2 separate regions of the Homo sapiens genome follow, and region 2 is linked to region 1. The links come from fine-mapping of genetic effects on gene expression. A gene starts in region 1. The other region holds a variant in brackets. All regions are shown on one strand. Distances are between the middles of the regions. Region 1 holds the start of MC1R (melanocortin 1 receptor). Region 2 overlaps PRDM7 (PR/SET domain 7).

Evidence for each region. PIP is the estimated chance that this variant, and not a neighbour inherited with it, causes the effect.
Region 2: its variant is the best candidate, but not a certain one, in a credible set for the expression of MC1R in whole blood (TOPMed, PIP 0.53).

The regions. Positions count from the first base shown.
Region 1 is chr16:89,915,875-89,921,247 of GRCh38, reverse strand. MC1R (melanocortin 1 receptor) reads right to left here and starts at 2,386. Exons shown (of 1, transcript NM_002386.4): 1 at 276-2,386. The coding sequence starts at 1,989. The coding sequence ends at 1,036. LOC124903759 (keratin-associated protein 5-1-like) reads right to left here. Exons shown (of 4, transcript XM_047435031.1): 3 at 3,201-3,372; 4 at 2,278-2,397. The coding sequence ends at 2,293. RefSeq lists enhancers at 80-963, 964-1,847, 2,446-2,495, 1,848-2,731, 2,732-3,617 and a silencer at 1,665-1,946.
Region 2 is chr16:90,060,560-90,065,932 of GRCh38, reverse strand. It overlaps PRDM7 (PR/SET domain 7), which reads left to right. Exons shown (of 11, transcript NM_001098173.2): 6 at 2,165-2,321; 7 at 3,431-3,532; 8 at 3,741-4,012; 9 at 4,414-4,481; 10 at 5,310-5,373. Among named protein-coding and RNA genes, the nearest start is that of PRDM7, 14 kb to the left of the region's middle. The variant T/C (reference allele first, on the strand shown) is at 2,202.

The sequences.
Region 1 (5,373 bases):
GGGGACTGGGGCCCTGCTGCACCTGCTCGTCCTTCCTCTAGGCTGGGGTTTGTCAGCACGGAGAGAAAACCGAGAAGCAGGGTCAGCGCAAGCCTGGTTGGGACCTCCACACTCCCCAGGCATTTGGGGCCTCTGGGGCTGTGGCTTCCTCACCTGGGGAGGCAGCCACGTTTTCCGGGACTCCTTTCTTCCCTCTCGACTCTCACCCCTGCCCACCTTCCCCTCCCCCATCCCTCCACCCGCAAACTTCAAGCACTTTCTGGAAGGGGCTAAGGTGGGTGATGCTGAGTCACATTTATTACCAGACTTTCCTGGCCCCATGCTCACAGGCACTGGTCACTGAGTCAGGCATTTGCCAGGGCTGTCTGCTTGGGCGACTGCTGCAGGAAAGCAGGCTGAGGCCCCAGTGCCCAGTCTGAGCCTTAGAACCGGCCCTCAGGAGGGCTCAGCCCCATACCACTAGGGGGGCTCCTGCAAACCTGGTCCCTTGGCCTGAGGCAGGGATTTCACCTCCTTTTGCAGGAGCCGCTGCAAGGCTGTGGATGAAGCTTTCTGGTCACAAAGCCCCTTCTCCTGGGGCTGCTGTGGGAGTAGCTCTTGGCACACACTTCCACCCAGAGACTTCACATCCCAGCTGACGAGGGCACGGTCCTGAGAGCTGGCAGCAAAGATGGGGTGGGGTGGATGCTGCTCAGTCATTGGAGCAGACGGAGTGTCCCAGGAGTGGGCGGAAAATGTCTCTTTAGGAGCCTGAGGTTGGCCCCTGGTGCCCGGAGCCTGAGGCCCCACAACCTCCCCATGTCCTCCTCCGTTCCCCACGACTGCTGGTGAGAAGTCCTGCCTGGAGTTTTGCAGGGACCCCTCCCTGGACCCAGAAGGGTCCGCGCTTCAACACTTTCAGAGATCATTTAGTCCATCCTCTTTGACAAACGGGGACCAGGGAGGTAAGGAACTGCCCAGGGTCACACAGGAACCAGACCACACAATATCACCACCTCCCTCTGCCCAGCACACTTAAAGCCGCGTGCACCGCGCTCACCAGGAGCATGTCAGCACCTCCTTGAGCGTCCTGCGGAGCTCCTGGCTGTGGAAGGCGTAGATGAGGGGGTCGATGATGGCATTGCAGATGATGAGGGCGAGAAAGAGGTTGAAGTTCTTGAAGATGCAGCCGCACGTGGGGTGCTCGGGGCAGAGGACGATGAGTGTGAGATGCAGGAAGAAGGGGCCCCAGCAGAGGAAGAAAATGCCCAGCAGGATGGTGAGGGTGACAGCGCCTTTAAGGCCAAAGCCCTGGTGGACCGGGCGCTGCCTCTTGTGGAGCCGGGCGATGCCCTGGGCGTGCTGGCAGGCCCGGGCCAGCATGTGGACGTACAGCACGGCCATGAGCACCAGCATAGCCAGGAAGAAGACCACGAGGCACAGCAGGACGGCCACGTGGTCGTAGTAGGCGATGAAGAGCGTGCTGAAGACGACACTGGCCACCCAGATGGCCGCAACGGCTCGCCGCGCCCGCGGCAGGGTCACGATGCTGTGGTAGCGCAGTGCGTAGAAGATGGAGATGTAGCGGTCCACGGCGATGGCGCCCAGGAAGCAGAGGCTGGACAGCATGGAGCTGCAGGTGATCACGTCAATGACATTGTCCAGCTGCTGCAGCACCGCAGCCCGGGCCACCAGTGCACCGGCCTCCAGCAGGAGGATGACGGCCGTCTCCAGCACGTTGCTCCCGCTCACCAGCAGGTCCGACAAGGCCAGGCAGCAGATGAAGCAGTACATGGGTGAGTGCAGGTTCCGGTTCTTGGCGATGGTGGCCACCACCAGCGCGTTCTCCACCAAGCTCACCAGCCCCAGGCTGAGGAAGAGCCCGTCAGAGATGGACACCTCCAGGCACCGGGCTCCTGTCTGGTTGGCAGCCAGCCCCAGCTGGGGGATGGCTGTGGGGGTGGAGTTGAGGGAGCCCAGAAGTCTTCTCTGGGATCCCTGCACAGCCATAGTCCTGTCCAGGAAGCAGGAAGGAGTCGTTGGAGGCCTCCAGGTCCCCACAGTTCTTCCCCTCCAGGTGTCCTGCTTAGTTCATGGTGCTGCCAGGGGGCCTTGGGTGTCCCCCATGCCTGCCTCCTTCCATCTGGGCACCCCCAGATCTGCCCTCACACCCTCTCCCTGGCTGGACAGGTCAGCCCAGGCATGGCCCAGCCAGTCCAGACACCTCCTGGCATCTACCGCCTGGGCTCAGGGATTCTCACAACCAAGCCTGGTCCTCAGCTCCCTCCCTGCCTCTTCCCTGGTGGCTGCTGCTCAGGTCCCCAGGACATTTCGACACCTCTGGACCGTCCTGGCCTCTGTCTCCTGCCTTCCTGGGCCAGGGCTGCGCTGAGGTCCTGGGAAGAATGGAGCTTTTCTCTGCGTTTTAAAAAGTCGTTCTCAGAGCCCCTCCCACTGAGGGCGGCCACATGCCGGGGGCGTGAGCACCCACCATGGCCCGGCCTGCCACCAGGCGGCGTGCAGGACCCAGGGGGTCCCTCACACCGCGGATCTCCTTTACGTTAAAAAACACCACAGTCTGTCCTGGTCACCAGGGCCCCCACCTGGCCGCCCCTCTAGGAGTCCGGAGCTTCCCCGGGACCTGCCCTCTCCAGAGGCCCCACCCTTCACCCCTCCCCTCGTCAGCAGCTCAGGGAGGACAGGGGTCCCCTCTGCTCTCAGCCAAAGCACGCATGGAGCAGCAACTCAGCTGTCAACGTTCACGGCAGATTTGGGGGCTGGACCAGGGAGAACTTTCCAATAATTAAAGTTCTGGAAACTGAGTGAGCCCTGCAGGAGTTTGCACATCGCGCGGGGTGAGGGGGCTTCCGGCCAGGGCAGAGCGTGAAAGCGTCCAATGCTAGTGAGCCCTGGAGAGGTTGGTGTTTTCAGGCATCTTGTAGAGCCTGAGGCCACTCTGGCGCCTGCCCCCAAGGGCCCAGCCTCGCCCAGCCAGAGTGGCGACCCCCTCAGCTGCAGCCCTGGGGCTGTGGGGGTGTCGCTTCCTGGGAGCGGACCGGCTGGGGGCACCCTAGTGAGGTCTTCAGGGACCCTCCAGTCATCTCGTCGCTCATCCTCACAGGGGCACCCGGGACGCTGCTCCCGCCCTCCCCGGGCGGCGCGCCATTTCCGCTGCGGAAGGCACCACAGGCCCTGCACCAACAGCCACATCAAAGGCAGACCTCTCGCCTCCAGCCGTCGCACGTGGTGCTCCGCAGGCCGTTCACAGCAGTCGGGCGTGGCCCCGAAGCCCAGCAGGGACGGTGGAGAGGGGCCCTGGCACCCACTGCAGGCATCTTCCTGGGTTCACTCCAGGGCGTTCCCAGCACTTCCTTGCTGAAGACTGCGTCTGTGCTGAAGGGTGGAAGCGGGAGGGGGATGGAATTACTCGTCCCATTTACAGCTGCAGGAAAGGAGGCAACGGTGCAGGCACCGCATCAGGGTTTTCAGTTTTGTGTCTGCGATGTTCGAGTTAAAATCCATCCTGTCTCTCGCCCAACTGCCAAACTCTGACCATGAAATGCTCACACCACTCACAAGCCACCTCCATGTGTGTGAGGACATTAATATTTTTCATATTTACTGGTACAGTAAATACTTGTTACAACCGCATTTTACAATTTATAAATCTTTAGTTTTGCTTTAAAATTTTTTATTATTGTCAGCCATGGTGGCTCAGGGCTGTAATCCCAGCACTTTGGGAGCCCAAGGCGGGTGGATCACCTGAGGTCAGGAGTTCGAGACCAGCCTGGCCGACATGGAGAAACCCCGTCTCTACTAAAAATACCAAAATCAGCCAGGTGTGGTGGTGGGTGCCTGTAATCCCAGCTGAGTCAGGATAATAGCTTGAACATGAGAGGCGGAGGTTGCCGTGAGCCGAGATTGCACCATTGCACTCCAGCCTGGGCAACAAGAGCAAAACTCTGTCTCAAAAAAAAAAAAAATTATTATTGCCGGGCACAGTGGCTCACCCCTATAATCTCAGCACTTTGGGAGGCTGAGGCAGGCGGATCATGAGGTCAGGAGTTCAAGACCAGCTTGGGTAATATGGTGAAACTCCATCTCTACTAAAAATACAAAAATCAGCCAGGCGTGGTGGCGCACGCCTATAATCCCAGCTACTTGGGAGGCTGAGGCAGAATTGCTTGAACCCAGGAGGCGGAGGTTGCAGTGAGCCGAGATCACACCACTGCACTCCAGCCTGGGAAACAGAGATACAGTCTCAAAAAAAAAAAAATATATATATATATATATATACATATAATTTTTATGTATTTATTTATTTTGAGACAGTTTCACTCTGTCGCGCAGGCTGGAGTGTAGTGGTGCATTCTTGGCTCACTGCAACCTCCACCTTCTGGATTCAAGCAATACTTATGCCTCAGCCTCCCAACTAGCTGGGACTACGGCACCCACTACCACACCTGGCTATTTTTTGTATTTTTTGTAGAGATGAGGTTTCACCATGTTGACCAGGCTGGTCTTGAACTCCTGACCTCAGGTGATCGGTCCGCCTCAGCCTCCCAAAATGCTGAGATTACAGGGATGAGCCCCCACACCCCATCTGCTTTAATTTTTTTTTTTTTTTTTTTGAGACGAAGTCTCACTGTCACCCAGGCTGGAGTGCAGTGGCATGATCTTGGCTCACGGTAGCCTCTGCCTACTGGGTTCAAGTAATTCTCATACCTCAGCCTCCTGAGTAGCTGGAACTACAGGCGCGTGCCGCCACACCCGGCAAATTTTTGTATTTTTTTTAGTAGAGATGGGGTTTCACCATGTTGGCCAGGACGGTCTTGATCTCCTGACCTCATGATCCTCCCGCCTCCGCCTCCCACAGTGCTGGGATTACAGGCGTGAGCCACCGCGCCCGGCCCTAAAATGTTTTAATTGAGGTACAACATACATGAAAATGCACCAGTGATAAATATGCAGGTTGACGGATGACAGACCTGAACCAGCCACATAAGCAGCACCAGACCAACAGACACAGCGTTCCCACCCGGACGGCTCCAGCGAGCCGCTGCCAGCCCATCTGGCCCATCACGTGAATGGTGTCCCAGTTCACTCTCTCTGGCTGAGATTCGCCTATGCCGGTGGCTGTAACCGTCTGCCTCAGACCGTGGTGTCCACGGCGTGAACAGACCACGTCTGGGTGGCTTCAGACTCCCTATCAACGATACCGTCTGATGGACACAGGTGCGTCTGTGGATTGCCACCCGGGGGACATGGGCAGGGACCTCTCTTCAGCTTTGGGAGACTTGGTCAAACCATCTTCAAATCGGCAGGCCTGTTTCTGTTCACACACGCAGCCCCAGGCTGCTCAGAGGAGAGAGCGCGCCCTGCCCACACCACCAC
Region 2 (5,373 bases), 140 kb before region 1:
CCCAAGCCCAGCTCAGGGCCTCTGAGAGCCTCCTGAGTGTTTTCTGAATGATTGATTCCAAGCTTATGAATTAAACTATAAGTAACAGGGTCAAGGAATGCTGAAAATATCTTTGAGTTAGATTTCAACTGTAGAGATATATCAGGACTATGAGATAATTTTCGTTTGTTATTTTTCTACAGGGGCAGGGGGTAGTTTGAGACAGAGTCTGGCTCTTGCGCCAAGGCTGCAGTGCAATGGCTCAATCTCGGCTTACTGCAGCCTCCATCTCCTAGGTTAGTGTGATCCTCCTGCCTCAGCCTCCTGAGTAGCTGGGACCACAGGCATGCACCACCATGCCCAGCTAATTTTTATGTGTTTTGTACAGGCAGGGTTTTGCCGTGTAGCTCAGGCTGGTCTTGAACTCCTGGGCTCAAGCCATCCTACTACCTTGGCCTCCCAAAGTGCTGGGATTACAGATGTGAGCCACCGCACCCAGTCTGTGAGAAAAATTATTTTTTTCTTTTCTTTTCTTTTCTTTCTTTTTTTTTTTTTTTTTTCAGACAGAGTTTCACTCTTGTTACCCAGGCTGGAGTGCAGTGGCGCGATCTCGGCTCACTGCAACCTCCACCTCCTGGGTTCAAGTTGTTCTCCTGCCTCAGCCTCCCGAGTAGCTGGGATTACAGGCGCCCGCCACCACACCCGGCTAGTTTTTTGTATTTTTTGTAGAGACAGGGTTGGCCAGACTGGTCTCAAATTCCTGACCTCAGGTGATCTGCCTGCCTTGGCCTCCCAAAGTGCTGGGATTACAGGTGTGAGCCACTGTGCCTGGCGAGAATAATTATTAATCTCACATTCATACTGTATTAAGTAGCTCAAAAAACACTTTGGTGAACATTATTATCTTTCATGTTCACTACAATATTAAGAATTAGTGCCGGAGGCAGTGGCTCACACCTGTAATCCCAGCACTTTGAGAGGCAGAGGTGGGCAGATTACCTGAGGTCAGGAGTTCAAGACCAGCTTGGCCAACATGGTGAAACCCCATCTCTACTAAAACTACAAAAATCAGCTGGGCATGGTGGTGGACACCTGTAATCCCAACTACTCGGGAGGCTGAAGCAGGAGAATCGCTTGAACCTGGGAGATGGAGGCTGCAGTTAGCTGAGATCGTGCCACTGCACTCCAGCTTAGGCAACAGAGTGAGACTCCCTCTCAAAAAAAAAAAAGAATTAGCATGGGCTGGGTGCGGGGGCTCTTACATATAATCCCAGCACTTTGGGAGGCTGAGGTGGGTGGATCACTTGAGGTGAGGAGTTCTAGACCAGCCTGGCCAAACTAGCGAAACCCCGTCTCTAATAAATATACAAAAATTAGCTGGGTGTGGTGGCACGTGCCTGTAATCCTAGCTTCTCGGGAGGCTGAGGTAGGAAAATCTCTTGAACCTGGGAGGTGAAGGCTGCAGTGAGCTGAAATCATGCCACTGCATTCCAGCCTAGGCAACAGAGCAAGACTCCTTTTCAAAACAAAACAAAACAAAACAAAACAAAACCATGTATGCCAACTTCTGGATCGGGAAACTAAAGAGAAATTAGCTAACAATACACCCTTATTCAAGCAGACAAGTAGAATTGGTACAGGAACTAACTAATCTAATTCAAAAGCCAAATATTCTTTCCAGGATATGGCAACATGCAACTTTGACTTCACTTTCTTAGTTGTCTAGATATATTTTTGCCAATCATCTCTTTGTTCTGTTCCGAACCTTACTGCCCTATTACCTCATTTTCCAGATGTGCTTTGTCCCTCTGTGCTTTTCTACATTTCCCCTTCCATCAAAAGTCTACTAGTTTATGGAAGATTCCCTCCTTCTCTCTGTAAGCCCTCATCCCCTTCTTTCACAGATCTTGCTGATTCTCCAGCTAGTCTTCCCAAGTATTCTTCCTCCTTCCCTTTAACTTACACAGAACGTTTTGAGAGGAAGTTGAAGGAAAGAGCCTTAAGACATGGGTTAGAGTCCCAGATTCACTACCCACTTAGACCTTGTCTTTTCCCTCTAGTATTTAGACACTCTAGGTATTTCCAAGGTTTGAACATTAACTACAGTCATATGAAAACATGTTGCAAGCCGTAAAGAACTAAATAAATGCACGTTGTCTTTTAATATGTGATTCTCACATTAAAGGGAATGCCCAAGGCGTCATTCAATAATGAATCTAGTT[T/C]GAGAGAATTGTCAGGAACGCCAAATTTACTGAATACAAGTGACTCAGAGCAGGCTCAGAAACCAGTGTCCCCTCCTGGAGAAGCAAGTACCTCTGGACAGCACTCTAGACTAAAACTGGGTAAGAAAAAATTTGAGGGGAATTTAGTCCCTCTATGTCCTCTAGAAAGGTTGGTGAGTATGGTCTACCTATGTGGGGTGGACTTTGGATAGGCCTGGGCTTAAGCTGGACTCAACTGTGAGACCAGAAGTTAGATGCAGTATTTTGTTAAAATTATTTATTTATTTGTTCACTGAGACAGAGTCTTACTCTGTCACCCAGGCTGGAGTGCAATGGTGAGATCTCGGTTCACTGCAACCTCTGCCTCCACGAAAATAGCGATTTTCATGCCTCAGTCACCCGAGTAGCTGGGATTATAGGTGTGCACCACCGTGCCCGGCTGATTTTTAGTAGAGACAGAGTTTCACCATGTTGACCAGGCCGGTCTCAAACTCCTGGCCTCAAGTAATCTGCTCAGCTCAGCCTCCCAAAATGCTGGGATTACAGGCTTGAGCCACCATGCCTAGCCTTGGATACAGTATTGAATAGCATGTAAGATCATTAACTTTGAAGTCACTCACTTGGGTTATAATCCACACAGAAGCATTGGGGCCTTGGGCAAATCTTATAAATTCCATGGGCTCCTGAATGGTAATCTGTAAAATGAGACCAAGTATATAGAGCTCATGTATTGTTTGAAATCATTAAATTAAATATAAATGAATTCATACATGTGAGGTGTCCAATAAGTACCTCTCTGATAATATATATTCTTTTGTGCGTTTCTACATTTCCTTTTCCATCACATGTCAACTAGTACATAGAAGATCCCCTATAGAGACTATACTTTCTTAGTGTTGTATGTCCAGGCCTTTGTTCAATGCCTAAGATGTAATGAACTCTCAAAAAATATTTTCTGAATAAATAAATGCATGAATGAACCATTTTGTAAGCAGAAAGGCTGGGAGGTTAATGGGATAATGAGAACAGCTAGAAACTAAAATTGAATAGGCATCTACAGTCAGTGTGGGTGTGGGGTCTAAGTCTCTCTGAAGCAGTAAACAGAGGGAGACTAGAGTATGTAGAAAGGTAGATGCTAATTTGATGGTAGGAGATTTCACATTTTCTTATGAAACAAGGACAAACACCCCAGACTCCCAATTTTACCCATCTACTCTTCTCCAACCTAGAACTCAGGAGGAAGGAGACTGAAGGAAAGATGTATAGCCTGCGAGAAAGAAAGGGTCATGCATACAAAGAGATCAGCGAGCCACAGGATGATGACTACCTCTGTGAGTGACCCTTTCAGCCACTCACACAGCTTGCTGTTATGTCCTGGTACAATAATTTCATCATTTGGCCCACAAATCATTCCCTTACTCGAATGAATTAAAGTACAGGATTGGGGCTAAATAATGTGAGTGCCACGCTCTTTCTGAAGCTCTTATATCAAGGAACATGCATTACAACTTTCCTAATCCCTGCTTCCCTCACTTCCAGATTGTGAGATGTGTCAGAACTTCTTCATTGACAGCTGTGCTGCTCATGGGCCCCCTACATTTGTAAAGGACAGTGCAGTGGACAAGGGGCATCCCAACCGTTCAGCCCTCAGTCTGCCCCCGGGGCTGAGAATTGGGCCATCAGGCATCCCTCAGGCTGGGCTTGGAGTATGGAACGAGGCATCTGATCTGCCACTGGGTCTGCACTTTGGCCCCTATGAGGGCCGAATTACAGAAGACGAAGAGGCAGCCAACAGTGGATATTCCTGGCTAGTAAGAAGAGCCTGCTGTTTCCCCTGTTCTGTCTTCCCACATCCCTTCTGTGCCTTTGATGGGACATCACCTTCTACATGTTAGGATATAGGTAGGGATAACATGGTTAGCTCTGTGTACTCAAGGGTCTTTGCATGAACATGGAACTCCTATTTAGAGATCACAGGGTACATGGGAGCAGAGTGGTACAAAGACAAAGAAGTGCATCCTCCCTTTTGGAGCTTCTGCTCTGATTGGACAAACCAACTCAGATGTGTAGATGATGACTAAGGTGCATGCCATGTGGTCTCAGTTGGCAGTTGAAGCTCTGCAGGTCCAAAGGCCATTGATGACCGTGGAGTAAAATAATTCTTCGGATTTTTACCCTCTAAAAAGTCTTTACCTTATTTTTTGAAACTCAGATCACCAAGGGGAGAAACTGCTATGAGTATGTGGATGGAAAAGATAAATCCTCGGCCAACTGGATGAGGTAAGGCCACTAGGTCTCTTAGTTTCAGAGAGAACCTCCATCTCTCACAAACCCGGACTTCCTTCCTTCTCATTATGCCTCCCTCAATGATTTTCACATCCCCTATTTCTATTTTTCTCCATACAATGCTGTTTTATACCATCAACTTTTAGAAATAAAAAATAAAAATATAGATATTATGATTTATTGGTATCAAAACACAAATATGTATGCTAGACAAAATTGAGGCACCAAGATAAACCTTGATAAGGTTAATTCATGCTTTAATTTATGTAATCCACATTTGTTAAACACTTAGTATGTTCCAGGTTAGGAAGTGAAGTTCACTACTTGAACAGAAGTGAACTGCAGGATGACCCAGCCCCTTTCCACAATGGGCTGTCGTTCTATCAGAGAATAGAAAAATGAATCAACTATTACTGTTCTATGTTATTGGGCCAAGAGAAAGAGACTTCTGAGTTTCTCTAGGAATCTGAAGAAGTCAGGTGAATGGCAGCTGAGTGAACTGTAGGGTGATTAGAGGAAGGCCTGTCAAAGAAAGATGGACTTGAGCTGAGTGTAGAATGATGTGAGCTAATCTAGAAGCAGAGCAACGTGATCAAGCACCAAGTTCTGTGGTATAAAACAGAATTAATTTAGAGTTTAGAGAAGCTAGAGGTCAATGTGTTTTATGGCCAATCAAGGTGGAGGTAAGTCTGGAGTTGGGCTTTGAAAAAATGGCTGATTAGGCACAGCAGGGAAGCATTCTAGGCAGGATGAGCATTGTAGTCATCCTGCCTGGAGGGAACTCACTGCCTCTTTCTTTCCCTTTGCCTGCCTTGACCCCAGGTATGTGAACTGTGCCCGGGATGATGAAGAGCAGAACCTGGTGGCCTTCCAGTACCACAGGCAG